Linked DNA regions of Homo sapiens. The protein of the gene in region 1 interacts with the protein of each later gene in a pairwise test. Each region holds a gene or a part of one and is shown on either strand. Other genes may lie near its edges. The genes, in order: MPHOSPH10 and CTNNA3.

Region 1 (3,277 bases):
TGCAGTTTACATTACTGGCTGTATGGAGCTTCTGTTGCTTCTAGATTCACTTCTCCATCATACCTGTCCTCTGCAGCTGATTGTGGATAGTGCTCTACAGCCTACATTAAACCTTTGTTCAGATGACATGAGATCATTTCCCAAAGGGGAAGGAAGGCACAGGCATGAAAATGCTACTGTTTTATGAAATGACAGGGCAATGGGAGAAGGAAATCAAGAGCCCAAAGAGTGAGGACCTCTGCTGTAGACAGCTGCTTGTGAGGGGGTTGGCTGGCTCTGTCCTCTTCACAGCCTGCAGGCCAGTGCTTGCTCACCAGCCCATGTGGACAAGCTGGCCTGGCCTTCACACAGGCCTGGGCCACGGCAAGAGCACAGCAGGATCAGCTCAGGCAGTGCCTGAACAGGAAGGGCCTGGGGAGGAGCCAGGTCCTGCTTCATACCAGTGAAAACCGGAAGGGCTTTGCAAATGGTTAGGGGTTTGTCTTTTCACACTATGGAACCCTCAAATATCTGTCATCGATGCAAAGGAAGGTTCTCAAGAATTTTATTATAAAACAGAACAATGACACAATATAAGCTTACACATTAATATTTACATTATATTCAAAATATATTACAGCTTTAATTTATGAACAGAAATATCCTGTCTTTTCTTCTTTTTCTTTTCTGTTTTCTTTGCATCATTGATTTGCATTTTTACTTGATCTTGTAATTTAGAAAAGAATGCTTGAGAGGACTTTAAGGCCTTGTCTTTACCTTCATCCTGCAATTAAAAACACCACATGCTTATGCTGTAAAATGTACTTATAAGTGAAAAAAGCCAAAAATAGTACATCACCATTACAACAATGTATGCAACCATAAATATGAAAAAGGACTAGAATTACAGAAAACTGAATCAGTTAGCATAGAGGTATTCTGCACTGCTACAATGTTCTTATAATCTAAGAGAGAAAGGAGTGGAAGACAAGCTGCTGCCAGGACCCAGGTTATTGTGAGGACCCTACATGAAAAATTCTAGAACATTAAAGGTTGCGATTCCAGCCAGTCAGCATCATGCATCTCTATCCCGCAGGTGGGCTGTCAGCTGGCTCAGACATTCCAGTCACCCAGCACTTGCTATCCACTTCCCCCACAAAGGTCCCCTTGAGCAGTTTTCTTTCCCTTGTCCTTACCTTTATGAAGGAAGCTTTGCCAGTTTTGGTCAGCTGTTTTAACTTCTCCGAAGCTACTGTTTTGCTGTATTTCCCTGCTTGATCTACACTGCTCTTTTCAAGCAGTTTTCTCCGCTTCTCCTTCTCTTTTATTTTCATACGCTTTTGATATTTCTTTTTCCTTCGCTCTCGTTTCTTGTCTGTAGCTGTTTTTTCAGCAGCTGTTTTTATATCTCCAGCTTTATTTTTCTCCTATTAAAAAAATAACCACCAACATATTCATTCATCAAGTTTAACAACTAGGAAACTGGAATGGAAGAAACTGCAGGGTAGCCAGCAAGCAGGCTGTGCATCTGTGGCCAAATGCACAAAGATGCAGAGCAATCCCCACCTGCATTCCAATGAGCGTTGGTAACTCAGCTCTTTAAAACCTGAAATGCATTCTTTGACAGGCACAGACTCTTATAGTGACGGTTCAGTTCCCAAACTAATTCACAAGAAGGCAACATGGAGAGTTGGGTTCTCAACCTAACAGCACAAGAGGAGCCAGCCCTCCACAGCATTTAGATTCCAATGGGCTTCAGGGACATGCCAGAGGCAGCCTCAGCTCTGAGCTGCTAATGACAGCAACTGGACTGAGGCCAGAGGGCAGAGACCAAGGAACAGAGGAAGGGAAGGGAAACATCTCTCTAGTGAGGATCAATTCTATCTCTTTTCTCCTCAGCTGCCAGCCTATCCTGCCAGGGCTGTCACCTGCACTGAGGTGGCAGAGGCTCAGACAGAAGGGGTGAGTGTAGGTGTAGCAAATCAAGTGAGGAGGGAAAAAGAAGGCCCTGCTGCTAAGCCAGCCAGGAAGATGAGCACCTGGCAGAAACCATTATTACTGTGTAAGGCATAAGCTTCAATGTTCACATGGCAGGGATTGCTGCATTTGATATATCTAGCCTCTTCTGATAACCAAATGCTCGATTCTAGATTCAGATTCCATTACTAATTAGCATTACATGAATAAAATAAGGGGGAAATGCTGACACTAAACTATTGCTAGTATATATGCAATGCAAGCCATTTGTTTTCAACTTAACATCACTGCTAGTATTCAGATTGGATTATAATAAGATATTGATACTAGCTATTTTAAAACTGCTCTTACAGTAACTCTCAAACCTGTACCTCATAATAAAGCCAGAATATAGGAGACTGGTATTTGAATATTATAACATTACTAGTTTGCTTATACTTAGAAACTGCTGAGATACATTGGAATAAGAACTACAAGTGCAAGGCAAATGACGTCAAATAAATGGAGTCTGGCTATGATCAACTAACTTGTAACAGACATTTAAGGTTTCAACATTGGCTTCTTACCTTGATCTCCTCTGGGGCCAGGAGAGCTGCATCACTAACACTCACTGGGGCTACTTCCTCCATGGTTATGGCTGGCAGATTTGACACAACTTTAATCTCTGGTACAGGCTAGAAAAGAGATAATACATTCAATGGGAAGCCAGAAGGGACTCTAACACAAAATGTGTGAACTGTGAACCTATTAACTTAAAGTATAATATATAAAATACTTTATGGAGATTATCTTTTTTTCACTTGCTTGAAAGTCAGCAAACCTAATGGAGACTATTTAAAATGTTAGATATGGTGACAGCCAAAGTCCTAAGTGGACTGGCATGACGGCAGTGCTGAGGGGCAGCACTGCTTCAGGATCCCAGAGACCTGGGTATTTTAGGGTTTTCTGTCTCAAAACCATTCCAACAGCATGTATTTCTTTTTCTTTTTTTTTTTCTTTTGAGACAGAGCCTTGCTCTGTTGCCCAGGCTGGAGTGCACTGGCGCTATCTCGGCTCACTGCAAGCTCCCTCTTAAGGGTTCATGCCATTCTCCTGCCTCAGCCTCCCGAGTAGCTGGGACTACAGGCGCCTGCCATCACACCTGGCTAATTTTTTGTATTTTTAGTAGAGATGGGGTTTCACCGTGTTAGCCAGGATGATCTGGATCTCCTGACCTCGTGATCTGCCCGCCTCGGCCTCCCAAAGTGCTGGGATTACAGGCATGAGCCACCACACCCGGCGTTTTCTACATTTTTACATAACATTTCTGCCATCTTCAAAC
Region 2 (7,309 bases), on another chromosome or scaffold:
TCTTCCAAAGAAACACAACTTGGAAATTAGTATATAAATTTTCAAACCACAATCCTAACAAAATGCATTGGCAAATAAGATACTCTATTGCTCCTGGTAGCAACATGCATTACAAAAATAAGAGCAAGCTTCTTAAAAGCAGAGTTGCTGGCTAGTCAACTTTAAAATTTTAGACACTCTGTTAAGGTTAGTATAATTTATTTAACTATTTGATATCGAAAAATAATCACATATTGGAAGTAGGATATTCTTGGAGGCAGGTTTATGTAATGAGAAAAAACGCAAGGTAGAACCAGACTTACTTGGTTCCAGTTCCAGCCCTACTATCTAATATCTGTGTTACTTTGAGCAAGTCACCAGACCTTCCAGTTCCTTTGTTTCTTCATCCATAAAATGAAGATAATAAGAGTACTTACCTCATAGGGTTGCTATGAGTTACTTTATGTCAACTGCATACTACAGCATATAATAGATATTAGCAATTATTTTAAGCTCTTCTGACACTTGGAACCAAACTCTTGACATTTGTCTTTCAAAAATTGCTTTTGTGCAGGACCAACATCCAACAGGGGTCTTTGAATTCAGGTACACCTTGAGACTCAAGATCATAGGCTACATTTGGTACCAATTTACCAAAAAGGTTACTGGACAGACCATATATCTTTCCAAGCAGCATCAGGTTTTTCTCTCAGCAGGAGTCTCAGAAGAAGCAGTTGGCATGGCAGTTCACACTGCCCTGTGATTGGGAAGCTGCTTTCCCAGGTGACAGACCAGGTGCAAGAAAGTGAGATCCACACCAGTGGAAGTGAGGTTCACGTAGGCTTAGAATCCTCATGTAAGGCGTATGTCTGGTAACAGTCTTGAATCCAAACTATAGGGAGTTAGACTAGTGTCCTACGAGTAGAAAGCATTCTAGTGTTTTGACACAATCTCTGTGAGAAACTTCCAAAAGCAAGAGAAGGAATATGTACCATGTCTTTTTGAATATTCCTCTTAGCTATCACTAATTACAATAGGGTTTTGGCAAGGGTTTGCTAGCAGACATTCCAAATTGACATAGTTGTCAAGGATTTATAGGTATTTAGTGTTTTTGAGAAAAGATCCAGGTATTCTATACAAACTACTTACATGGACGAAATGTTAACATTTTATGAGGAAACAGAAAATGTATTTTATTGTTGCTAAACTCCACCTTTTTGTAGTAAATGGCTATTGATATGTTTTTAAGAGCAAGTCCTTTATCCGTAAACATTTGTAGAATTGGTCCAATTTGTACCGTTGTTAAACTGAAACCATATAATACCACAAAGCACAGAAGAGACACTATAATAAAAGTAAGATTTATACAGGATAATATTTAACAGGATTCTATTTAAATTGGCGTATTAGGGTTATTTGCAAAACACATTACATAATTAGCATAAGAGTTAATTGAACATAATCACTTATCCATCTAGATACAAAAAAATGAGGCAGAACTTATTGATTTATGTTTGGGCATAGACAATATTGAGCAGCTTATTGTGACATTAATAGACTATCAGGCTCAGTTATTTTTATTTTTATTATTTATTTATTTTTTTATATGGGGTTTCACTGTCACCCAGGCTGCGGTGCAGTGACGCCATCTTGGCTCACTGCAACCTTTGCCTCCTGGGCTCAAGTGATCCTCCCTCCTCAGCCTCCTGAGTAGCTGGGGCAACGGGCACATGCCACCATGCCCACGCTTGGCAATAATTAACAAAACCTCCTGGAATAATAGCTCTTTTTTCTCTTTTTTCCCTACAGTTGGACAGTGTCACATCCCTGATCCAAGCAGCCAAAAATTTAATGAATGCTGTAGTGCAAACAGTGAAAATGTCTTACATTGCCTCAACCAAGATCATCCGAATCCAGAGTCCTGCTGGGCCCCGGCACCCAGTTGTGATGTGGAGAATGAAGGCTCCTGCAAAAAAACCCTTGATTAAAAGAGAGAAGCCAGAGGAAACGTGTGCAGCTGTCAGACGAGGCTCAGCAAAGAAAAAAATCCATCCATTGCAAGTCATGAGTGAATTTAGAGGAAGACAAATCTACTGAAACCACTATTCTACATATAGTGCCTATATGACAAAATCCTGCCTAACCACACTGCTTTATTTTACACTTAAGAAGTTCTGTAATTTCACTAAGTTTTGGTGTTTAACTCACAAATAACATAAAATATTGGGCGCTAAATCAACAAAAGCAATATATATTTGGGATCATATCACTGTCATTTCTGTATGGTCAGCACCTAATAGTTAAGGAATATTTGCTTGTTGAATGAATGAAATTATCACGTGTCATTCAGCGTTTCCCATCATAGAGATTATCTACTATTCGTTACCAAATAAACACAGGAGAGGCCAGAGAGTCCTGTTTATCTGTAATACTTCATGTACACTTATCATCCTTATCTTGAATTAAAACACTAACATGAGCTCCTAACTTGGTTTTTTAATAGAAACAAAAGACTTTTATAAAATATTTTCCCATTTAATCTCCATGCTTTCTTTATCTGATCTAACCTGGCACCTAACCAGGCAGAAATGTATGATTCCTGCCATAGCAAAAAAACCACCTTTTAATCTCTAGATAGCTGTACTCATTGTCAACTTATTAGGCTAATATCCATTATAAACTAATCAAATTTGAATAGTTAGGCTACTTGCTGGATTTTGAAGGTCAACCTTGTTTATTAATAAAATGCTTTCTTAACATTATAAAGGTTACAATGAGTTCTGATGCCACATACTCACCTTTTGGGTTTCCAATGTGTTAGAGAGTTCTGTACTTTTGAGTGTTAGGCCTATCCGAATACATATGTGAAAGAAGAGTTATCACCCATTGGGAAAATGAGACAACAAACTATATCCCAAAGTGAGTTATATTAATAATAACAGAAGTGTAAGTTCTGTATGACCCTATTTTTACAAACATAAAAATACATTTTTATCAGCTTGCAATTGTAATTAAAAGGAAAATGGCAGTTTGAAAAATCTTTTGACGTTGAGTAAAATATAACTGCATGAACTGTACCATTGAACTATGAAGCAGTTAATGGCAATGAAGCTGGAGTGATTTTAATAACGTTCTTTTAAATAAAAGTCACTGGGGTCATTTTACAACTCCAGTCACTGTGTTCATTCCTAGTTGAGTTCATAATGGACTTCATAATAGTCTTAGAGTCTAGTGTACCTCTCTCTGTCATTCTCTCTCTCTTTTTCTCTCCCCTGATGACCTGCCTCTCTCTGTCTTTCAAAAATGTCCTTAACAGAAACTCTTTGGAGGCCATAAGTTTTGTTTTCATTTTTTCTCATTCATAGAGTTCTGATTCACAGACTTTAAAAAACATTTTCTATTCTACATTATCATAATAGTATTATATTGTACCTTTTTACTTCTAAAACATTGCCATTGATGAGAGGCGTCTCAGCAACGATGTAACCTTAGATTGATGAGAAAAAAATTTACACATACAATACCAGTTGATATTAGGAGAACCAGTTTGGGTAAAAGGATGCATGAAACATAGAAAAGCATAAAGATTGACAGTACGATATGTGTGGAATCTTAAGCATAATGGTATGGGAAAAGAAGGATCTATTTAATAGGTCATTATTAATTATGCAGGAAATGTTAAATTTCTTGTAATGAATTATTTCAATCTTCCAAGTAGCTGGATTGCCTGAGCTCAGTGTAAAACTTCCTAGGAGGTGAAGGCAATAAACTCCTCCCTGTTTTGCACCATAGACTGGCCTACAATAACTATTCTGAACAGAATGCACTGCCCAGAAGAAAAGGCAGTGAAGAAGGGAATTAGGGAATTCAGATGACTCTGTTTTTCAGAATTATCTAGATGATTGAGGCAAATAGAGATTTTCTTTTATTGAAATGCTGCCATCATTTTCTGCTCTAAGTGTAGATGTTGCACGAGTGACATCTGTGGTATATCCTTCTTCCAGATAGAAGTATAAATTTATAATTTAGTGGGGAGAGGAATTTTCTTTTAATCACCAAACTACCAGCTGTATAGAAAATTTTTTTGAAATCACCAAACTAGCAGTTGTGTATCTTAGCTCCTAAAGCCACATTCACAAGAATCATAAGCATCTCATTTAGAAAATCTAATGTCCACCGGACCCAACATCATCTTTCCACATGTTGGAGTTTAGAACATGCAGTATTGGACACCAAAAGAACAGAAATAACTTGAAATTATACAATTACCAAATAACCTCCATCTCTTTGATAAAAATGACTTTTTACCCAAAGTGAGATGTGAACAAGTTCTCCTCTTTAACCCAGGCAGATTTTCAGCTTAGCTCAAAGCAAACTATAATTAAATAAAACAATAAAAATTTTAACTCAATGAATATCCTAGGAGTTAATCTGCTGTGGTAATCGATAGTGACATAAAAACAAGATGCATAGAGCTGAAAAAGGCATCTGTCCACCTGAGTGAATTCCTGTAGTAGGCAGCATTTCAAGATTTAGTTTGATTCAAACCTGCTGATAAAACAAATGCTTATATGCAAGAAAAACTAGCAGCAAGATATGAATAAATCTCCCCATTATGTTAAAAACTAATCAGCATGACACATTTATATTTAGGTATTTCTTCTGCAGAGGATTGCCAGAAATTTCTTAATGAGAGTGATAATTTGGTGATCCACCTATGTACCTTTTGATGTCTCATCACAGAGATTAGTGCTTCCTCTGATAATACATTTGCTTGATCCTGCTAATAAGAACTCACCTTTCTTTTTAACGAAATCAATTTGTGTTAATTTACATAGGGAAAAACGTTCCTTGAGAGGGAGGAGAGGGGTGTTTACCACCCACAGGAGCAGTTCCATCCCTGGTTACCCACCAGTATCCCTGCCAGATGTTAGACTGGAATTAGAATGAAAATTTAAAAAAAAACGAAATAATAATCCACTAAATGGCCTTCTAATTAGAGAAATTTGAAGATTTCTATCAAATATAAAAAGTGAGAAATAGAAATCATTCCCTTTAATTTATGACAAATTAAAATTATTGAAGTAAAATGTTTCTAAGTCAGTTTCTGGATAGTTCTTGAATGAGTCAAGAAAAAACTCAAACACTAAATTTCTAAGCTAATTTGTTCATTATTCCTTTCTGTTTATTATTTATTATATGAGTGCAAATTGCAAATGTATTAGAAAAGACAATATAGCCTTCACATTCACAAGTGTGCCTTCTGGCCTTTGAAATCTTTTAACATAAGATCAATATAACATATTTGTTCCCCATAAAAATCTCTTATGTACAGGGAATAAGGTCCTCCATAGCTACACAGAGACACCCATTCTTGCAGTCTGGCATTCTTAACACCTTTAGCTTCAAAGGCAGTCGGTTTCAATTTCAAGCTAAAATTGTGAATATACAATTAAGTGCGCAACTTGGGCCTTCAGACCAAATAATTAATGCTCCTCAAATTAAATAATGAGTGGCTGAAAAGCCTAATGTGTAACAACAGAGTAAGTGACTTCAACGGCTTCCTGAACCTTCATTTTGAGGGTGTTCTCATCTCACCCACCTCTGGGCTAGGTATCCTCTGTTAATTGCTAACAATTTCCTACCAAAATAGTGCAATCAGGACTGCCCATCACAGCAAATTACTCCAATTAATGCCCTTTCCTCTTCTGTGAACCAAAAATATCTCTCTCCTGTCTCTCATCTCTATCCCAGGTATAAATTGACTAATAAATTTTACAGAGTTTTAGTCAAAATTATGAATTTTAATTTCCAGCAACATTATTCCTTTAGTCTTTCTATTCCCCAAAACATTCTTAAATTTTGGTATCAAATGTTCATTTCTGTCCTAGAGATTGTGGTTCCCATGGCTACAGATTTTTGTATAGTGGTAGTATGAGTGGAATAAGATCTGAGACTTTTCCTGGTGATATCCACCATTCTCTTGTGAACTCATTGCAGAATAAACAGCCTCTTTCACTTTCATTGTAAGTAGTTCTTTAGGTTGGCAAAGCAGGCACCAGAATCTGAATTTGAATGAAATCTGTACTTTCTTTTGTTGGCCTATTTTTTGCCAAGACAGCCTGCCTATTGTATATTTAGGAATCAAATATTCATTTTTTCTGTTTGTAAAGCCAGAAATATTTCAGTTAAAAAGAATATAATTTTATATTATTTTAATAATTCTTTTTAAGTAAAGTAGGAAAATTTCTGCCACCTGAGATGTTACTGTTTTTATTTATATGAAAATTCCATTTTTTTCTTTATGACTCTTTTCCCATACCATTATGATATGTTCAGCATTAGTATTTTCCATTTTACCACTAAACAAATAAGCCAGGACTAATAACAATAGCAGTTTGAGAGTTTTTATTTTGGCATTTTGGTTTTAATTAGGAAAGAAAACATGGATGCTATTAAAACTAGTTGTAGTTAAAAATGTTTTGAATGAGGCTACTAACGCTATCTTAGTCATCTCAAAGAGAAAGAGAAGAAGTAAAATTTTAAATACCTTTTTGGCATTTTTAACCAATTCATATGAACAAAAACATATATTCTATTAAAGCAAAATAAAGAATAGTTTAAAACACTAGTCTTCTTGCATGTGAATATTTTCCCCCTAACAGACAAGATAGAATCCATTTCTGGACACTCTAAAAGAAAGTAATGTTAATTGAGAGAGCTGTCTCCAAATGGAACTCAACCTGACCAGAATCCCATCCGCAGGCAAGAGATGGGCTGTGGGGCCGACCATAAGTTTTATTCTGAGACGAGATGCTTTATGGCTGCTGGCTGCATTATGGCATCTAGCAGTCCCCACTGGTTTGTGGGAACAAAACACATGGATTGATATTCAATATGAGTTTGGTAAGTTGGAGAAAAATGGAGACGATACGGAGTAGTCTAAAGGCACAACAAATAAGAAGGTGCCAGAGGTAGGGAAGGGTCTGAGAGGGGTAGTTGCAGAAGCATTTAGCTTTCATAGATGAGGGGAGAGTTTTTTGGTTTTATGAAGATTAGGCAGCCCTCCTGAGGAAAGTATTAAGGATAGAATGAGACACTTGTCTTGGTGGTTTGGTGAAGTCGTGTCGAAGGCAAAAGGATGAACTACACATATTTTGAGCATGATTTAGTAATATTGTTTGCAAGTTGAGAAACAGAAATTCAGCCATTCTCCTGACTGATGGTAGGTGAAATTCTTCCCAATATTAGAGCCAATCTGGGTTACCATACGTTCATATATTTAACAGCTATTTGTTAAACAACTGTGATGTTCCAGGCACTGTTCTAG

The links.
Region 2: the proteins of MPHOSPH10 (region 1) and CTNNA3 interact in binary tests that used the Homo sapiens proteins (3 or more experiments, as listed by UniProt).

Annotation. Positions count from the first base shown.
Region 1 is NC_000002.12:71,147,352-71,150,628, reverse strand, and holds the end of MPHOSPH10 (U3 small nucleolar ribonucleoprotein protein MPP10), read right to left. Parts: intron 2,631-3,277; coding exon 2,523-2,630; intron 1,407-2,522; coding exon 1,176-1,406; intron 764-1,175; coding exon 614-763; 3' UTR 528-613; downstream 1-527. UniProt on the Homo sapiens protein: Component of the 60-80S U3 small nucleolar ribonucleoprotein (U3 snoRNP). Required for the early cleavages during pre-18S ribosomal RNA processing. Part of the small subunit (SSU) processome, first precursor of the small eukaryotic ribosomal subunit.
Region 2 is NC_000010.11:65,915,097-65,922,405, reverse strand, and holds part of CTNNA3 (catenin alpha-3), read left to right. Parts: intron 1-1,788; coding exon 1,789-2,076; 3' UTR 2,077-7,309. UniProt on the Homo sapiens protein: May be involved in formation of stretch-resistant cell-cell adhesion complexes.